Linked DNA regions of Homo sapiens. The protein of the gene in region 2 purifies or fractionates together with the protein of the main gene of each other region. This does not show direct contact. Each region holds a gene or a part of one and is shown on either strand. Other genes may lie near its edges. The genes, in order: TNFRSF13B and SCARF2.

The links.
Region 1: the proteins of SCARF2 (region 2) and TNFRSF13B purify together in Homo sapiens (co-immunoprecipitation; one large-scale study listed by IntAct). This does not show direct contact.

What each region holds. Positions count from the first base shown.
Region 1 is NC_000017.11:16,951,409-16,955,214, reverse strand, and holds part of TNFRSF13B (tumor necrosis factor receptor superfamily member 13B), read left to right. Parts: intron 1-2,631; coding exon 2,632-2,769; intron 2,770-3,806. UniProt on the Homo sapiens protein: Receptor for TNFSF13/APRIL and TNFSF13B/TALL1/BAFF/BLYS that binds both ligands with similar high affinity. Mediates calcineurin-dependent activation of NF-AT, as well as activation of NF-kappa-B and AP-1.
Region 2 is NC_000022.11:20,427,682-20,431,487, forward strand, and holds part of SCARF2 (scavenger receptor class F member 2 isoform 2 precursor), read right to left. Parts: coding exon 3,337-3,806; intron 3,228-3,336; coding exon 3,009-3,227; intron 2,877-3,008; coding exon 2,748-2,876; intron 2,153-2,747; coding exon 2,049-2,152; intron 1,973-2,048; coding exon 1,855-1,972; intron 1,675-1,854; coding exon of another isoform or gene 1,660-1,674; coding exon 1,544-1,659; intron 1-1,543. UniProt on the Homo sapiens protein: Probable adhesion protein, which mediates homophilic and heterophilic interactions. In contrast to SCARF1, it poorly mediates the binding and degradation of acetylated low density lipoprotein (Ac-LDL).

The DNA.
Region 1 (3,806 bases), on a different chromosome or scaffold from region 2:
GACCCTTGGCCATTGGTTCACAAGTCAGACTGAGGCACTGACAGCTGCCTGGAAGTTCTGGGTAAGCAGTTGGGCTCACTGACGTAGAAGCTTTGCCCCAGTGGGATCAGGCAGGGACTTGGACATTTTCTGGAGAGAATCTCCCGCTGTCAGTGCCTCTGGGTCTTTTCCTTTGGGTCTGTTTTCCCAGAGCAGAGACTTCTGATTTCCTGCCAGTTGCAGGGTAGGGAGGGAGGCATCTTTAAAAACCTGGTTGCCACACTCCTTAGATAGAAACTGGGGTGGGTAAGGAGAGGGGAGACTGGCTGTCCAGGAGGAAGATTATCACAATTCCCCTGTTGCCAGGAAGGACCACGTTGCTACCCTCAGCTGTGTCCAAGGAGACCCCACTCTTATGCCTGGGTGGGTGAGGGACTGGCACCTGCCTTGGAATGGGGATGTGCTGGGGTCACACCCTCTTTATGTAAGTTTCCAACCAATCCTCTTACAGAGCTTCACCCCTTCTGCCCAGCCCTGCCGTCAGAGATACGTGGTGCCTCCAAATCTGGAGACTTCCTTGAGTTCTGTGACTCAGAACAACTTCCTTCCCATGTAGGCATCAATGATGAGAGATTCTCAAAGGCAGTCAGGCACTCTGGTTCCTCCATCTCCCAGAATGTTAGAGACATGTGTTCTTTGCTGTAGAAACCTCTGCCATTCCCTTGATCTCTGAAGATAGATGGACTTGACTGTCAGCTTTGCATGGTTTCAGGAGGGAAGGAAGATAAACCCCTGTGTTTAAGCTGCCGTGTTAAATGAGAGGCCCCTGGTCTTTTTTCTTTTCCTTTTTTAGAGACTGGGTCTCACTCTGTTATCCAGGCTGGAGTGCAGTGATGTGGTCATAGCTCACCTCAGCCTTGAACTCTCAGGCTCAAGCGATCCTCCTGTCTCAGCCTCCTGAATAGCTGGGACTACAGCACGTGGCTAATTTTAAAAATCCTTTTGTAGAGACAGGATCTCACTATGTTTCTCAGGCTGATCTTGAACTCCTGGCCTCAAGAAATCCTCCCACCTCTACCTCCCAAAATGCTCGGATTACAGGCATGAGCCATGGTGCCCAGCCACCTCTGGTCTTCCCTCAGCTTGCTTTCGTTAAAGAACAAACACATGCCACTGGGCGTGGTGGCTCATGCCTATAATCCCAGCACTTTGGGAGGCCGACTCGGGCGGATCACGAGGTCAGGAGTTTGAGACCAGACTGGCCAACATAGTGAAACCCGCTCTCTACTAAAAATACAAAAATTAGCCAGACATGGTAGCATGCACTTGTAATCCCAGCTACTTGGGAGGCTGCAGGAGAACTGCTTGAACCCGGGAGGTGGAGGTTGCTGTGAGCCAAGATCACACCCACTGCACTCCAGCCTGGGCAACAGAGAAAGACTCCATCTAAGAAAAAAAAAAGAACAAACATATGCCTTGCAAAATGCTTTTAAGCATTTTTAAGGAGAAGTTATTGGGGGAAGCAAATGTCATGAAATCAGAAGAGGATGGAGAAGGTGATGCATGCACACAGTGGAAGATTCACAGTAACACAAAACCAGACATGCAGAGAGCGCCCACATGGATGAGTCTCAGGCACCAAGTGGAGGAACAAAACCAGACACGGAAGTACCAGAAGGGGCAATATTAGCCTATGAGGGTAACAACAGAACAGTAGCTCCCTCTAGGCATGGGCATTGGGTGTCGGGGGACCCCAGGGAGGCTTCAGGGGTGAGGAAATGTCCTACATCTCCATGTGGGCTGTAATGACACAGGTGCATACATACATCAAATTTCACCAAGCTGTATTCTTCAGCTTTTTGTGCACTTTACACACATCATTGTGGTTGTTTCATACTTTAGTAAAAAAGAAAACAAGAAGGAAATTGACATTCTTGGTTCTTGCTGTGTGCTAGGCACTGAGTTGGTCCGTACTTAAAGAAACCATTCACTTAATGAGCAGGTGCTGTGTCCTAAGTACTATCTAGGTTCTGAGGACTCAGCAATTAATAAGAAAAATTAGGCACAGTCCCTGCCAGATGGTGCTCACAGTTAGTGTAGGAGCCAGCATCAAATAACCACATGCATAGAAGGAAAGTGACCACAGCAACAGGTAAAGGGCAGTGCGAGTGTGTAGAAGAAGGACCGTGTCCTAGTCTAGGGGGTGAGTCAGAAAGGCTTCCCTTGGAGATCAGGTTTAGACAGAGGTCTCAGTCTGAGAAGGAATAAACAGCTGAGGGGCAGGGGCTGGGGAGAAGGGCACGTCATGTGAGGGAACAGCAGGTGCAAAGACCCTGTGGCAGGGAGAGGCGTGGCACGTTAAGGAGGGCAGGGAACAGGGCCCAGTAGGGCACTGCTGATGTGAGAGAGCAGGGGGCCTGAAAACAACCATGTGCAGATGGGGAAACTGAGGCTGGAGAGGGGAGGTGGCTGCCCCAGGCCCCTAGCAAGTGCAGTGGGGGCTAGAAGCCAACTTTGTCTGCCCTCTCTGCTCCTCAGACAGAAAGGTTGTCTGTGCGAATGTGGGCAGGAGAGGCCGTCTTGGTTCCCATCAGGGACAAGAGGCCGGGCTGTGGCCGCCTGCCAGCTGCCCTCACTCTCCTGGTCTCTCAGTTCCACAGGGCCTGTGGACGGGGGTGGCTATGAGATCCTGCCCCGAAGAGCAGTACTGGGATCCTCTGCTGGGTACCTGCATGTCCTGCAAAACCATTTGCAACCATCAGAGCCAGCGCACCTGTGCAGCCTTCTGCAGTGAGTTCTGGGGCCTGAGCCGAGGGGACAGTGTGATCACCCTCCTCCTTTCTCCCTAGAGCACCCTCTGGCCCCACAGTCAGGTGGCTGAGGAAAGGGTGGCAGGAGGAGATGTACAGTGTGGCACCTCTTACCCCTCCACCTTTCTGCTTTGGTCACACAACCTCCTTTCGGTGTCTCAAACACAGTCCATTCTTTCCTGCCTCAGTTCCTTTGCACATGCTATTCCCGCTGCCTGGAATGCATTCCCTCTATCATCTTCCCTCAGCTCCCTCCTACTCAACCTTCAGGTCTCAGCCCAAACGTCAGGGGTCTCCTCTGACCACCCAGTAGAACTAGGCCCTCCCTTGTCACTGTGTGTTGTTACATTCTTTTGAAACTTTTTATTACAGAACTTATCACACATGTACATAGAGAGGACAGCACAATGACGCCCTCTGCACCCATCACCAGCTTCACAAATTGTTTAAATTCTGCCTTGTACTTTCCCAACCAATTTTTTTGACTTGTGTATTTTATTTTATTTATTTTATTTTTTATTTTTATTTTTATTTTTTGAGATGAAGTTTCGCTCTTGTTGCTCAGGCTGGAGTGCAATGGTGCGATCTTGGCTCACCGCAACCTCCACCGCCCGGGTTCAAGTGATTCTCCCTCCTCAGCCTCCCGAGTAGCTGGGATTACAGGCATGTGCCACCACACCCGGCTAATTTTGTATTTTTAGTAGAGATGGGGTTTCTCCATGTTGGTCAGGCTGGTCTTGAACTCCTGACCTTAGGTGATCCACCCACCTCGGCCTCCCAAAGTGCTGGGATTACAGGCGTGAGCCACTGCACCCAGCCTGCCTTGTGTATTTTAAAGCACAGCCAAGATCTCATATAATTTTACCTGCAGATACTGGACCACGAAAACCTGTGAAACATAATCCAAATATCCTATCACTGCCAGCAATAATTTATTAACATCATCTAATACTCAGGCAATATCCAGTTTTCCCTGATTGTCTTGAAAATTATTCGTTGCTTGCTGTTCTTTTTCAT
Region 2 (3,806 bases):
CAACTCAACAGGTACAGTGACACTGGGCCAGGACTGGAGAATGGGTAGAGGTGAACCCAGAAAAGAAACATGGGCACAACATGTGTTAAGGTGCAAGGCAAGTGTGTGCATCCAGGGAGCTGGAAAAGGTTGGGCTGACGTGTTGAGAAAAGGCCAGAAAGGTGGGAGACGGGGCTGAAGAAGACACCTGGCTGGGACAGGCCACCAAGGCCTCCAAGCTCTGTTTTAGGCCCTGCCTTGTGCGAATAAGGAAGCCTTGGAGCACTTCTGAGCCCAAATGCGCAGTGGCAGGGCTGCCCTTTGGCTCAGCCCATCTCAGCAAGCTGCACCCTAGGCCTGGCCTCCAGAGATGCAGACCCCACAACAGGGGGCCCCAGAAGCTGGCTAGCCTGGCCTCCATTCCACAGAGGGATGTGGGGTCCACTCCCCACACCTATGTCCCCAGATGCCATGCTGCTAGGTGGGCCAAGGGGTTTTCTCTCTCTTGCTTGCTTGCTTTTTCTTTTCTTTCGACAGTTTTGGGGTTTCTCCTCCCTCCCTCCCTCCCTCCCTCCCTTCCTTCTCTTTCTTCTTTTCTCTTCTCTTCTCTTCTCCTCTCCTCTCCTCTCTTCTCTTCTCTTTTTTCTTGACAGTTTTGCTCTTGTTGCCCAGGCTGGAGTGCAATGGTGCGATCTCGGCTCACTGCAACCTCTGCCTCCCTGCAACCTCTGCCTCCCAGGTTCAAGTGATTCTCTTGCCTCAGCCTCCAGAGTAGCTGGGATTATAGGCATGCGCCACCACACCCGGCTACTTTCGTATTTTTAGTAGAGACCGGGTTTCTCCATGTTGGTCAGGCTGGTCTTGAACTCCAGGCCTCAGGTGATCCACCTGCCTCGGCCTCCCAAAGTGCTGAGATTACAGGCATGAGCCACCATGCCCGGCTTGGCTAAGGGGTTTTCTCAGCTGTTTCCTTCATCTCCCAAGAGTCTGAGCCCCCTTCCCCTCCATCTTTAGAAATAAGTGGGAAAGAGAGGAAGAGAGGGTCCACCCAGGTGCAAGTCAGCATGGAGAGAAGCGGCACACCCCACCCCCCTATCCTGTTGGTGGGTGGGGACCAGCCTGCCCACTTTCCAGGAGGATCTCTGGGTACTGCTGGGGATGTAGGCAGGAGGGTGGGTCCTCTCCGTGGGGCAGGGCACTCCCGTGGCCACGCATTCCCCCAGCAGCTCTGGCCGGGATATACAGCATTCTCCTACAGACTGGGGGAGCCTGCGGGACCCAGATGTCCACACACCCCTGATGCGATCACTCTCAGGGCCAACGTTTCTGACATATGCCCACATCAGCCGGCGCACCTAGGACTCCTGCCTTCCTACCTTGCCTCGCCCTCAGCAGCTGCCACACCTCTTACCTTCCCTCTGGTCGCACCTCCTCGCGCCCACGCACATCAACACTCAAGGTCCCCCATTTCCTCACTGAGATCTGGACCCCCTCACACCCATTTCCCAGCAGCTTCCTGCGTCGAGAGGTGTTTCTCCCAGATACCCCGCGCTGTCATCCTTACCTACGACTTTGGGTAGTTTCTGCCTCCGGAGCGGGATCCGGGGCAGCTTCATGCTGATGCGACTGAAGCGCCCGCATAGTCGGTGCGGCGCCTTCTTCCTCCCAAGCGAAAGCTCCCTGCGGGGGCGGGGTCTGAGCGGAGGGGCGGGGCCGGGGCGGGGCCCAGGGGCGATTAGATCTCGGCCGGAGCCAAGCACAGAAGGGGCGGGGCCACGTCCGGGGCAGGGGCGCGGAAGGGTTGGATCTGGGTCCGGTGGCACCCAGAGGGTGCGGCCTGAACCCAGGCGAAAGCGGGGCAGTATCTGGGCTCACCGGCGCGTAGGGTCCTTGCCGCGGCAAGCGCAGCAGCAGCCGAGCAGCGAGAGCAGCAGGCAGACGAGCAGGACGAGCAGCGCGCCCGCGCCCATCACGCCCTTGCGCTGGTTGGTTTCTGTAGGGGGTTATGGGGTCAGCGCGGTTTCTGGCACCCCCTGCATTCCTTAACGGGACGCCCCTCATCCACTTACCTAGGTGGCAGGCACCAGTGACCGGGTCGCACGTGTCCTCGTGGCAGCTGCAGGCCTGAGCACAGTCCGCGCCGTGGAGTCCGGGCGGGCACGTCACGTTACAGCTGCCGGGACATAGGGTCAAGGCATGCCACAGCCGCCCCCCTAGGATGCCCCCTACCCTCACCCCTCACCCGCGGCCAGGGCCCAGGGTCCAGGGTCCCAGAACCGGGCTCTCTCTCGCTGCATTCGTCGTCTAGGGATTGAAGCCCCGCCCCGCCCGTGGCACATATTGGGTAGTGGATGTTTTGGAAACGAATGTTGCACAACACTAGTGGGGGGGCCTGGGGGATAGGACCCGTGGTGGCCGCGCCGCAGCGCCCACTGCTGGGGCTGACTCGGCTAGGTGGGAAGAGGGGCTGCTGAACCAGACCCTTGGCTGTAAGTGGAGGTCCCTGGTCCTTCTGTACCAACTCGGGGTCACCTTAAGAGCCCACTGACACAGGCTGGACTGGTCACCAGATCCTGCGCTGAACGTGAGCTCCCCGACATCCAGGCAGGAAACTGCCCCCAAAGAGCCTACTGTCACTCCCTAGCTGGGGTAAGGGACCAAGGCTGAGGTGATAACCCAGCTCAGGGTGGAGAGGCCACCTCGTCGGCTGGACCCCCCTCTGTGGCAGGTACAAGCCCCCAACCCCCTCCCGGTCCCGGGGCACTCACTGGGGCCCGTGGACGCCAGGGCTGCACAGGCAGCGCCCCGACTGGAAGTCGCAGTGTCCGCTGCCGCAGTCGGCGCACACGAAGGCGCAGTCCTCGCCGTAAGTGCCATTGCTACACTTGGTCTCGCACCTTGGAAAGAGGGGAGGAGGCGTCAGCAGAAATGGAGGCAAACGGACCACAGCGCCCTCGACATTGGGGCCTTTGTTAGGGAGGCAGGGCGGGGGACTGCGTGTCTGGGCCGACGCAGGCAGGGCTGCTCACCGGTCGCCGATCCAGCCCGCGTTGCAGCGCGTACACTTGCCGGTGACATGGTTACAGGCATGCCCGTCGCGGCATGGCGGACAGCGGTGGCTGCAGCCCTCGCCATAGAAACCGGTGGCGCAAGGCTGGTCGCACTTGGTTCCGTTCCAGCCGGGCTCGCACGTCAAGCAGCGGCCCTCGGCCACCGTGCACGGCTGCTGGCCCTTGCACTGGCCACACCTGGGGGAGGGGTCGGAGGCTAGGGAAGGCTGGGACCCGCCTCACCCCTGTCCCCATCGGCGGCCCGCCCTTCCACCTCCTCCCTCCCTGGCCGAGAGACCGCGCTTACCGGCGGCGACAGCCCAAGCCGTAGAAGCCGGCGGGGCACGGCTCGCGACAGTACTTGCCGCGGTAGCCCGGCTCGCAGGCACACGTGCCGTCCACAGGGTGGCAGCGGCCGCGGAAGCACTGGCAGTAGCGATCGCAGCGCGCGCCGAACGTACGCTCGCGGCACTGACAGCGGCCGCTCTGCTGCTCGCAGGGAGACGAGTTGCAGGCGCACTGGTTGTTGCAGCTGCGGCCCCACCAGCCTGCGTGGCACAGGCAGGCGCCGGTCTGTGGGTCGCAGCGCGACGTGGCGCTGCAGTAGCACGCGCTGGCGCACTGCGCGCCCCACCAGCCGGGCTCACAGCGGCACGCGCCGCTCCGCGGGTGGCACGTGCCGTGCTGGCACTGGCACGCATGCTCGCAGCGCGCGCCCCAGCGCCGCGCGTGACAAGTACACTGGCCTGTCACGTCCTCGCACTGCCCGTGTGGGTG